Linked DNA regions of Homo sapiens. The protein of the gene in region 2 purifies or fractionates together with the protein of the main gene of each other region. This does not show direct contact. Each region holds a gene or a part of one and is shown on either strand. Other genes may lie near its edges.

Evidence for each region.
Region 1: the proteins of USP28 (region 2) and HAUS5 purify together in Homo sapiens (affinity purification with mass spectrometry; one large-scale study listed by BioGRID and IntAct). This does not show direct contact.
Region 3: the proteins of USP28 (region 2) and GUCY1B1 purify together in Homo sapiens (affinity purification with mass spectrometry; one large-scale study listed by BioGRID and IntAct). This does not show direct contact.

What each region holds. Positions count from the first base shown.
Region 1 is NC_000019.10:35,615,729-35,619,379, reverse strand, and holds part of HAUS5 (HAUS augmin-like complex subunit 5), read right to left. Parts: intron 2,257-3,651; coding exon 2,187-2,256; intron 2,094-2,186; coding exon 2,011-2,093; intron 1,526-2,010; coding exon 1,468-1,525; intron 1,310-1,467; coding exon 1,185-1,309; intron 979-1,184; coding exon 915-978; intron 812-914; coding exon 681-811; intron 494-680; coding exon 331-493; intron 1-330.
Region 2 is NC_000011.10:113,802,550-113,806,200, reverse strand, and holds part of USP28 (ubiquitin carboxyl-terminal hydrolase 28), read left to right. Parts: intron 1-1,154; coding exon 1,155-1,333; intron 1,334-1,449; coding exon 1,450-1,528; intron 1,529-2,323; coding exon 2,324-2,403; intron 2,404-2,919; coding exon 2,920-3,043; intron 3,044-3,651. UniProt on the Homo sapiens protein: Deubiquitinase involved in DNA damage response checkpoint and MYC proto-oncogene stability. Involved in DNA damage induced apoptosis by specifically deubiquitinating proteins of the DNA damage pathway such as CLSPN.
Region 3 is NC_000004.12:155,790,018-155,793,668, reverse strand, and holds part of GUCY1B1 (guanylate cyclase soluble subunit beta-1), read right to left. Parts: intron 1-3,651. UniProt on the Homo sapiens protein: Mediates responses to nitric oxide (NO) by catalyzing the biosynthesis of the signaling molecule cGMP.

The DNA.
Region 1 (3,651 bases), on a different chromosome or scaffold from region 2:
GCCTCAGTGTGCCTCTCTGCTTAGGTCCTGCTTCTGCCTGGGAGTCTCACCTGGGCTCTTGCCTAGGAGGCCCAGTTCTTAATTTTTAAGTGACAGCATTCTTTTTTTTTAAGTGATAGCATCTTGCTCTGTCACCCAGGCTGGAGTGCAGTGGTGTGATCATACCTCACTTCAGCCTTGAACTCCTGGGCTCAGATCCTCCCACCTCAGCCTCCCAAAGTGCTGGAACCACAGGCATGTGCTACCACACAGGGCTCAGGCCCAGTTCTTAGCCATAGTTTTCAAGCCTCCCCTCTGGCCCTCCACAAGGCCCTGGGCCTAGCCTCTCACCACCAGCTGGCGCCAGTGCAGGATCCGCTGCTGTTTGGCCTGTAGCTCCCTCAGCAGGAGCTGCCGATGCCCAGCTGCATCCTGCAGCTCCTGGCTCTGATCGTGCAGGGCCTTGAGCTCCGTCCACAGGCAACAGCGCCGAAGCCCCAGTATCAGCACCTGCCTGCAGGGCAAGTGGAGGAGAGCAAAGGAGAGAAGGGTGACTGAGCCACACAAGGGACCATAAACCAGGGAGAGACACTGCAGGGAGAGGAGGCAGAGATAGGAGCCACAGAGGCTGAAAAAGTCCAATGGGCTGAGACACTCAGAAGCGAGATGGCCTAGAGACCTCTTCTCGGAGAGCCCCCCACCTCTCACTGGATCCCAGGACGCGTCTCTCCACCTCCTCCACCAGGCCCTGGAGGCGCTGGGTCAAGACTTGCCGCTCCTTCAGGAGGGTGCTCCGCTGGGAGACCAGCACACCCACAGTCCGCCAGCCCTCCTGCAAGCGGGGTACAGAATCAGGGTACACCCAGGGCATGATCCATGGGTGAGGGGATTAAGGAAGTCTTGGAATGTGGTGGGGAGGCGAGCCCTGGGGTCACCTGGATGAGATGAACCATGGACGGCAGGGTCTGGCTGGAGTCTGACTGGTCCGGGGCCTGGGGTCTGGGGTGGGGGAAGAGCTGCTGAGGGAGCCGTGCTGCGGCCTTGCCTTGGTACTCGAGGGTGGACAGTATCAGTCCTGCCACCCCACCAGGCAGTGGGTTTCAGTTCTACCCCATCAGCAGGTGGCTGGGCCAGGGGTCCTGAGGCTGTCCCAGCTCACCCACTCACATGGCCTTCCCCAACTGTGAGAATACCCTGCCCCACACCTGGATATCTCTGTGTCGCCAAGCCCATCCCCACTGCACAGGGACCGAATCTCTGCCTCCCGCTCTGCAGCCAGGTGCTCCAAGGCAGCCAGGACGTGGCCTGGGGGGTGGTTTGTCAGCAGCGTCTAGGGGGAGGGAGGGTGAAGTCAGGGCAGGATCGGGGCAGGGCTGTGAGCTGAGACCCCATGGGAATAGGGCTGTCATCAAGAGTTAGGTCCTGGCACCCTAAGTTTTGATCAAGGAGCGGGAGGGTGTGGCTTTCCTGAGAGCCCTGCCCTCTCACCTCCACTGAGCTCAGCCACTGCTGGTACGAAGTGCCAAAGTGGTCATCATGAGGGGTTCTGTGGGGTTGGGTAAGCGGACAGAGAACGTTACAAGACACGTCAATTATCCTCTAGTTATCACCACCACCCTATAAGGTAGGGGCTGTCATCTTCCCTATGCCTGTTAGACTTGAGTTCCCCAATTATACCAACCTGCTGGCTTTGGGGCCTTTACATGGGTTGTTCATCTGGGACACTCTCTGGACCCTTCACCCCAGCTAAGCCTCCTCACCAGAGAACCTCTCCCCTCCCTGCCTTCTTAGCTGGGAAAGGCACTGCCTCTGGGTGCCCAGAGCCTCTCAGGCCTCCTCACTCCCGCAACAGCCCTGACCACCTGGCTGTCACTGTTTGTGATGAGAGACTGTCTCCTTCTATTCCCAGCCTGGAAGTCCCCTTCTACAGAACGTAGCCCAGAAGCTCAGTGTCTGAGGAATTAATAAATAAGAGACCCCCACTTAAAACCCAGGGTCTTTACAGGGTCTCTGGGGGCTAGGGACACTCACGGGAGGCTGCCCCTCTTGGCCTGGGGAAGCAGGAGGTTCTGCAGGAACTGGGCCCGGAGGGTGCAGGCTGTTCGGACATCACGCTAGGGAGAAGAGGAGGAAGGGACCTGAGGGGGACCCTAGCATCTGCCTGACTCCAGGCTCCCTGCCCCTTCTCCCATGACCAGGACTCTTACCAGGACCACGGGCTCCAGGCCCAGAGCTGCCGACGTGAGGGATCCAAAGGTCACATCTACTTTGGCTTTCCTGGAGGGAGAAGTGCAGCTGGGGCTGGGGTCCCTGGGAGAACAGATGTCTGTGCCCCATCTCCTCTCACTGCCAGCAAGGCCGGTCAGAGGAATCACTAAGCCTAGATCTCGGGAGCCATCTCCAGATTAGGCCACTGTCACCTCCCAGCTGGAATATTGCATTAGCCTCCCCACTGCTTTTGCTCCACGAGACTGTTTGCCACCCAGAAGTCAGTGATTCTGTTAAAACTGTAGGAAGATCATGTCCCTGCTCAGATCTGTCCAAAATAATGTGATGTTTCCCCAGCGCATTCAGAATAACAATGGGCCCAGCGTGGTGGCTCATGCCTGTACCCCAGCGCTTTGGGAGGCTGAGGTAGGTGGATCACTTGAGGTCAGGAGTTCAAGGCCAGCCTGGACAACATGGTGAAACCCCGTCTCTACTAAAAATACAAAAATTAGTCGAGCACAGTGGCATGCGCCTATAATCCCAGCTACTGGGGAGGCTGAGGCAGGAGAATCGCTTGAACCCCAGAGGCAGAGGTTGCAGTGAGCCAAGATCATGCCACTGCACTCCAGCCTGGGCAACAGAGCCAGACTCTGTCTCAAAAAAACAAAACAAAACAAAACAAAAAAACCAAACCCAGAATAACAATGGTTAACAGGCACTTCTCTAAGCACTTCACATGATTTATTCCACCTAACGATCATGCCTACCCTATAAGCTTGGTATTAATATTATCCCCATTCCACAGATCTTAGAATCTGAGGCACATAGAAAGAAGTTAAATACCTTGCCCAAGGTCACCCAATTTTTTTTTTTTTAAACAGAGTTTTGCTCTTGTCACCCAGGCTGGAGTGCAGTGGTGCAATCCAGGCTCACTGCAACCTCCTTTTCCTGGGTTCAAGTGATTCTCCTGCCTCAGCTTCCTGAGTAGCTGGGACTACAGGCACGTGCCACCACACTCGACTAATTTTTGTATTTTTTAGTAGGGACGGGGTTTCACTATGTTGGCCAGGCTGGTTTCGAACTCCTGACCTCAAGTAATCCGCCTGCCTCGGCCTCCCAAAGTGCTGGGATTACAGGTGTGAGCCACCATGCCCAGCCTTAGGTCACCCAATTTTAAGTGGCCAAGCCAGGGCATGAACCAGTGTCAGGGTAAAATCGCAACACATCATCCACAGTTCTCTGTCCACTCCTTCGACCTCACCTCCTCAGGTTCTCGGTCTTGCCTGAGAAACTTGAGCTGACATTGGCCTCCGGGCTGCTCTTCCTGCATGCTGAGCACACCACCTCTGCTCTTGCTATTCCTTCTCCACAGAAATTCCTCTTCCAACTCAATGTCCCCTCCTCAGAGGCCTTCGCTGACCACCCTCGCTAGGGCAGCATCTCCCTCTCCCTTCTATGATAGGC
Region 2 (3,651 bases):
TTGGGAGGCCCAGGAGGGAGGCTTGCTTGAAGCCAGGAGTTCAAAACCAGCCGGGTCAACATAGTGAGACCCCCATCTCTACTAAGGAATTTTTTTTTTTTTTAATTAGCTGGGCATGGTAGCACATACCTGTAGTCCCAGCTAATTTGGAGGCTGAGGCAGGAGGATCACTTGAGCCCAGGTGTTCAAGGTTGCAGTGAACCATGATTGTGCCACTGCATTCCAGTCTGGGTGACAGAGTGAGACCCTGTCTCCAAAAAATAAAAAAAAAGTCTTCTGTGAAGTGAAATATGAGACTTCCTTTCCTGTCCAACTGATGAACAAGCTGTTCACTTCTCTTCTCTTGACCCTAACCCAGCCTTGGCTAGCAGTAACATTCTCTGTGACACCTAGCCTAGAGGGCTTTTCATTGTTGTTGTTAGGAGTTGTCTGTTAGTAACACTGAGTTAGATTGTGCCTTTGTAATTTTGAGGCCATAACAAAGTAGGCTGTGTTTTTAAAAATACTTGAGTAAAATTGCATTTGTATAGATTCTTTAAGTTTAAGTCATTGACACACAAGGATCTGCCTTTTATAACAATTAAAACTAAATATTTGTTTTTCTGAGAACTTTATGAGAAAACTGAATTTCTTAAGAGTACAGTAGGCTGGGCGCAGTGGCTCATGCCTGTAATCCCAGCACTTTGGGAGGCCAAAGTGGGTGGATTGCTTGAGCTCAGGAGTTTGAGACCAGCCTGGGCAACATGGCGAAACCCAATCTCTATCAAAAATACAAAAATTAACTGGGCATGGTGGTATATGCCTGTAGTCCCAGCTACTTGGGAGGCTGAGGTGGGAGGATCACCTGAGCCCAGGAGTTCAGGGCTGCAGTGAGCTGTGATCATGTCACTGAACTCCAGCCTGGGTGACAAAGTGATACTCTGTCTCAAAAAAAAAAAAAAGTACAGTATGTTTTTGGTGCCAGAATGCTAAAAGAGTTTCATCCCTTATGAAATGCAAGAAACTTAAAAATTCCATAGTTGTTTTTGTAATTCGATATGAATTTTTTAGAAGTCTTTTTAGAGTCAAGAGACTGCCTAGCTCCTAGGCATCAATTTCTGTGTGCAGAAGCCCACAGCACACTATTTTCTAACCATTGATTCTGCCCTTAATAGGCATTCCATGAAGAATACTCCAGGCTCTATCAGCTTGCCAAAGAGACCCCCACCTCTCACAGTGATCCTCGACTTCAGCATGTCCTTGTCTACTTTTTCCAAAATGAAGCACCCAAAAGGGTAGTAGAACGAACCCTTCTGGAACAGTTTGCAGATAAAAATCTTAGCTATGATGAAAGGTGAGAAGAGAATATTCAGGTGAATCCCTTGGTCTGGGTTGGGCTAGATGGACTCCTCTGTTGGGGAAGTTTTGCCCTGTGCCTTTTCATTGCTTTCTGAACTTTGTCCCACACAGATCAATCAGCATTATGAAGGTGGCTCAAGCGAAACTGAAGGAAATTGGTCCAGATGACATGAATATGGAAGAGTACAAGGTAAAGTGTTTTCTTTAAGTCTATAGAGCAAAAACATTAATTCCTGAGGTAAATGGTACCTGAGGCAAAATAAACAATTTTGTGCTATTACAAACTGACTTGTTCTTCCACTTTCCCCTCAAAATCCTGGTAAAGAATGGATAAATGATATTTTCTTGCCCTCAGAATAGCAGGTCTCTTTATTTTCATTCTTCATTTAGAGTGAGTCAACATTTCACTTCCCTTAAATACCTATTTTAGCCTTGTCCTAGGCAGTAAAATTCTTGAAATCATGCTTTTGGTTTGTTTTAAATGATAAAGTTTTAAAAATACGCATTAAAATACATAGCTACACATGTTTTCAATTGCATCCCATGTAAAACAATGTTATGTACCACCCAAGGTGTATTCACCACACTTACTGAACTTGAACTTGCTCTGTATGACTAGAAATGTCCGTGTCCTTCCATATTTTCAATATCTGGATGGTTTTACCAGTCCTAAAGAGGTCATTCACTTAAGCTAGAGCTGAATATCTTTTACATAGCTGTTAGAAATTAGGATAAAATCCGAAGCTCGTAGGAAATAAGTACTTCTGTTACTCAAGTGAAAGGAACAGAACATTGAAAATTAAGGTCAGTGGTAGACTTTTATTTTAAATGTTGAGTAGGTTTTTATCTGAAAGCTTTTGTTTGTTATTTTTGTGGCTAGCCAGATGTGCTCAGTAAATATTTGTAATGAATTTAAAACTTAGATGGGAAGGACACTAACAATCTATTATGATCATGATTATTAATAATCGTCATTCTTTTTCAGAAGTGGCATGAAGATTATAGTTTGTTCCGAAAAGTGTCTGTGTATCTCCTAACAGGCCTAGAACTCTATCAAAAAGGAAAGTATGTTGGCCTTTTATTTTACCAAGATTATTAGTCAGGATGCTGTTCTCTGTAGATGCCTACCTGGGAATACTAAGAGTCACAGCCATGCATAACCTCCCTTGTCACATACACTAGTGTGCCTCTTCTCTTGCAGTGCTTTGGTTTTGCTCTAAACATCACACATGGTTTTTCATCCTTCAAATGATTAGATGTATTAGCTGCGAGATAATATTGTGCCAGGCTGTCTTTGTGATCAATGAAGATGAACTCAGAAAATGAATTTTTGAGTTGACATAGACCCTAGTGAGCATTTCTTGTTTTAGAGATGGGAAAACCTGAGGCCTAGGGAAGTTTCATATTTGCTTTGGATGGCTAGGCCAATTTGTAGAAGAGATGAGACTGGCTACGGTCTTTGGTCCTTCACTTTTTCAGAATTGCAGCCAAGTAGGTTCTTGAAATGGGGAAAAGTGAGGTCTAAGCCCTAGATTTTAGTAAAAGAGCACTCAGCTGTTGTTTATCTCCCATTTTTCTAAGGTACCAAGAGGCACTTTCCTACCTGGTATATGCCTACCAGAGCAATGCTGCCCTGCTGATGAAGGGGCCCCGCCGGGGGGTCAAAGAATCCGTGATTGCTTTATACCGAAGAAAATGCCTTCTGGTTTGTACTGTTTGTAAAGCCTTAAGGTTTTTTTGTTGTTTACCTCTGCTCCTTGAAGCCAGGAAAATATATGGCTTTCAAAACAGACTATCTCCAACAGGTTGTAGATTTCCCCCCAAAATTCTCATGAACAGTTTTACATTGGAACAGGTTTTTTTTCAGTTACTTTTAGTGAATGTCATTCTTCTTCAATGATAACTGATAGAAGTTAAGATGAGAATCAGTCATCCCTCTGTGTGCCCTTCATGTATGCCTGCATTATAGATTTTATCACATTGCTTTCCTACTAGGTTGTAAATTCCTTGAGCTCAGATCCTTTTCTCACTCAGCCATTTCCTCTGTGCCTGTCATGTAGGAACCATGTAATAAATGTGTGTGGAAGGAATGCAGCATTTTTTCCATGTTCACATTTAAGCTGGTAGACTTAAAGTTTTAGTGACTTCTGACACTCCATTTTTTTAAAATAAAGGTAGGAACTGTAAGAATTGGTCCTGCTGTTCTGATAACATCATTGTCACATACTAGTGAAGACTAACTCTCTCCTGGCCTGATTTGCACTGTATAACTACATGGAAAGGCAGACCTACATCCCCTTGCCTCCCCAGGGG
Region 3 (3,651 bases), on a different chromosome or scaffold from region 2:
AGATTGAATAATCATTGTAAAATTACAAATCTGGTATCAGTTCCCCAGTATCCTATATGGTCTCTTTGGTAGAATTAGAAAAAAAAAGCACTTGTGGGCTCTGCCTTCTTAGCCAAGCACACTTGTATAGTGAACAACCTGAAAGCCAGCTAAAAGCAAGCTAGCACTATCAAATAAGATTACAATACTATTTTAAAACAATGGGAAATAAAATGATAGAGATTCATATTCAAAAATAAATGCAATGTCATTTTTAACCATCAACTATCAAATACATAAAGTTACAATACCAGGCCAGGTGCAGTGGCTCACGCCTGTAATCCTAGCACTTTGGGAGGGTGGGGCGGACAGGTCACCTGAGGTCAGGAGTTTGAAACCAGCCTGGCCAACATGGCAAAACCCCATCTCTACTAAAAATACAAAAATTAGCCAGGCGCAGTGGTGGGTGCCTATAATCCCAGCTACTCGGGAAGCTGAGGCAGTAGAATTGCTTGAACCTGGGGAGGCAGAGGTTGTAGTGAGACGAGATCATGCCATTGCATTCCAGCCTGGGCGACAGAACGAGACTCTGTCTCAAAAAAAGAAAAAAAAGTTACAATATTAAATTGGGTAAGGTACTGAAAAAGAGGCATCTCAAATACCACTGATGAGGGGGTATTTTGATTAATCTTTCTGAAGGATAAATTGACAATAGGCATAAAAATTCCTTAAAATTTTGTGGATTCTTTGATTTAATTGCAAATCTAGGAATTCATTCTAAAGAAGTAATCGTAATTGTGAGCTAATATCTATAATGTAAAAAAATCCTACTTTTCTAAAGTATTATTCACAGGCAAATACATTATTAAAGTATAGATTTTCCTCTTCTTTTTGGGTTAAGAAATTGCAAGCAATGAGCCCTCTTACAAAGGGAAAACTCGATCTCAACGGCAACCAGACCCAAAACAGAAAAAGTTTGGGACAACATTTCTTCAGTTACAGCTAAATAAAAACAAAATGTTGTTCATTTTTCTTTTCTTTTTTTTTTTTCAGGAGTACCCTGTCGCATTCTCTGCAATTTTTAAAAACAAATCACAATAACTATAGATGCTATTGTATATATTCTTTTAGATATATTTTGTAGCAAAACTGGGATGTTACTACCTCACTGTCAGAATAACTTACTATACTGGTTAAATATTAGTATCCTTATTTATAATTTGAAAATTTTACCACATTAAGGTTGATTTCCCTAACTCATAGACAAGGCAAGAGAGTCAACCTTAAATGACAGGCCTACTTTTGATGTTCTACTCTGTTTCTATTTAACTAGAGAAATTGAATTATATGTATCCTAAACTTATGAATTAATTATTCAATTCTAATTTTTTTGCTTTGATCAAACTGGCAAAACAAATAGCTTTTCTAATCATATTTTTAACTTCTCATTGGTATATCACTTTATGACATGATCTAGTATTAACCATGTGGTTCAAATTGTCTGGTATCTCTGGACCTGATAAACTTAATGTGAGAATCCCTCGAGAAGTCAAAACAGTGCTTTTGAAAAAATTAAACACATAAAATATACCTATAAAATGCAAATATTTCAGAAGTTCATATTGAAGCACTTGAATAAATGGTCAGAAGAGAATTTAAATATTTTATAAAGTGAACCATATAATTAAGTAAATACTTGAATTTCATACAGTTTGCTAAAGCCATCAATCTCCCATGCCAAAGATTCTAATACCACAGTAATAGTAGTTTCCAAGTGTGTCCTAATTTGTGTTTCTTTCTGAAGTTTCTACGAACCTACCTCTTTCTCAGTCTGGTTAAATAAAAATAAAACCAACAGTGCATACAATATGCATATACGTTCACTCAGTATAGATGCTGTGTTTTTTTTTGTTTTTCGTTTTGTTTTGCTTTATTTTTTTTTTTTTCTCTATTTTTTTGATAATGGAGTCTCACCCTGTCAACCAGACTGGAGTGCAGTGGCGAAATTTCGGCTCACTGCAACCTGTGCCTCCCGGGTTCAAGCGATTCTTCTGCCTCAGCCTCCCGAGTAGCTGGGATTATAGGCGCCCGCCACCACGCCTGGCTATTTTTTTAGTATTTTTAGTAGAGACGGGGTTTCACCGTGTTAGCCAGGATGGTCTCAATCTCCTGACCTCGTGATCCCCCCGCCTTGGCCTCCCAAAGTGCTAGGATTACAGGCGTGAGCCACTGCGCCCAGGCGATACTGTTAGTTTAATGTCAAGAACAAAAGACTGGCCGGGCGCGGTGGCTCACGCCTGTAATCCCAGCACTTTGGAAGGCCGAGCCGGGCGGATCATGAGGTCAGGAGAGAGAGACCATCCTGGCTAACACGGTGAAACCCCGTCTCTACTAAAAATACAAAAAAATTAGCCGGGCGTGGTGGTGGGGGCCTGTAGTCCCAGCTACTTGGGAGGCTGAGGCAGGAGAATGGCGTGAACCCGGGAGGTGGAGCTTGCAGTGAGCGGAGATCGCGCCACTGCACTCCAGCCTGGGAGACAGAGTGAGACTCTGTCTCAAAAAAAAAAAAAGATTGGAAATGTGAGGTATATACTATTTTGATTGAATACCAGTGAGATTCCCAATCATGGATGAATTGTGATACTTTACCCAAGGCTTTAATTTTTAAATGTCTGCATTTGATAATGCCATGTTATACACAGTCCTACTTTCTATTAGGTTGGTGCAACAGTAATCGTGGTTTCCGCCATTACTAATGGTTGTAGAAAACTAACGATGCACCTGGAAATCACCAAAAGGTGCCACGTAAGAACTAACACCAACTTCTGAAAGAAAGAAAACCATGAACTCTAACATAACTTTACTAGATTAAATATGTGGAATATCTTTCTAATTTATTTAAATGTTACTATTTTAATTTTGGATAATACTCCACTTAAGGGTTTTAGACCTCCCAAGTGTGTTACAATATATCTATGATCTATAAGAAAGAACTGTCTAATAGGTTTTCTATAAACAAAGAAAGGTTGGAAAAAGGTATCTATCTCCCCACTTTGGCCTCAAGTTTAAAGCTACTGAGAATTGACTCTTGGGTATGAACATGCTGAACACATAAAAAGCAGCCTGACTGGGAGAAACCGTAAGGGCCAGAGGTAAAGAGAAACAGTGGTTCTCTTTGTTGTACGGTTGCCCTATCAGTACCTTGAAATCATCACTCAAAACTAAGAGTGTGTATTATCAATAACAGCACAATTTTTAAAGTACCAGACCTGGCTTCTTTCACCAAGTAACTTGATTAAAAACAAAAACAAAAACAAACACTTTCATTCACAAAATTAGACATTCCAACTATATTTCGGGGCAGACAAAAATCGACAAAGAGAAAATGATCTATAAAATAATACTTAATTTTATATTGCCTTAGAATTTGACTATCCATATTATGGATATTTTGCATGCTGAAACCCACAGCTCAGTCGTCACATATCCTTCTGCTTCCCAGCTGGTGTGTGTTCACAGGGAATGCAAAGTAAATTTCTTGTAGCCTTGAACACTATATAATTAGAAAGAAAAATCTGCTGCCAGAAGGAAAAAAATATCCTGTATAATGCACTCCCAGGCCAAATATAGAAGATTGCTGGTCTTTCCACTGTTTTGGCTTATATATACTTC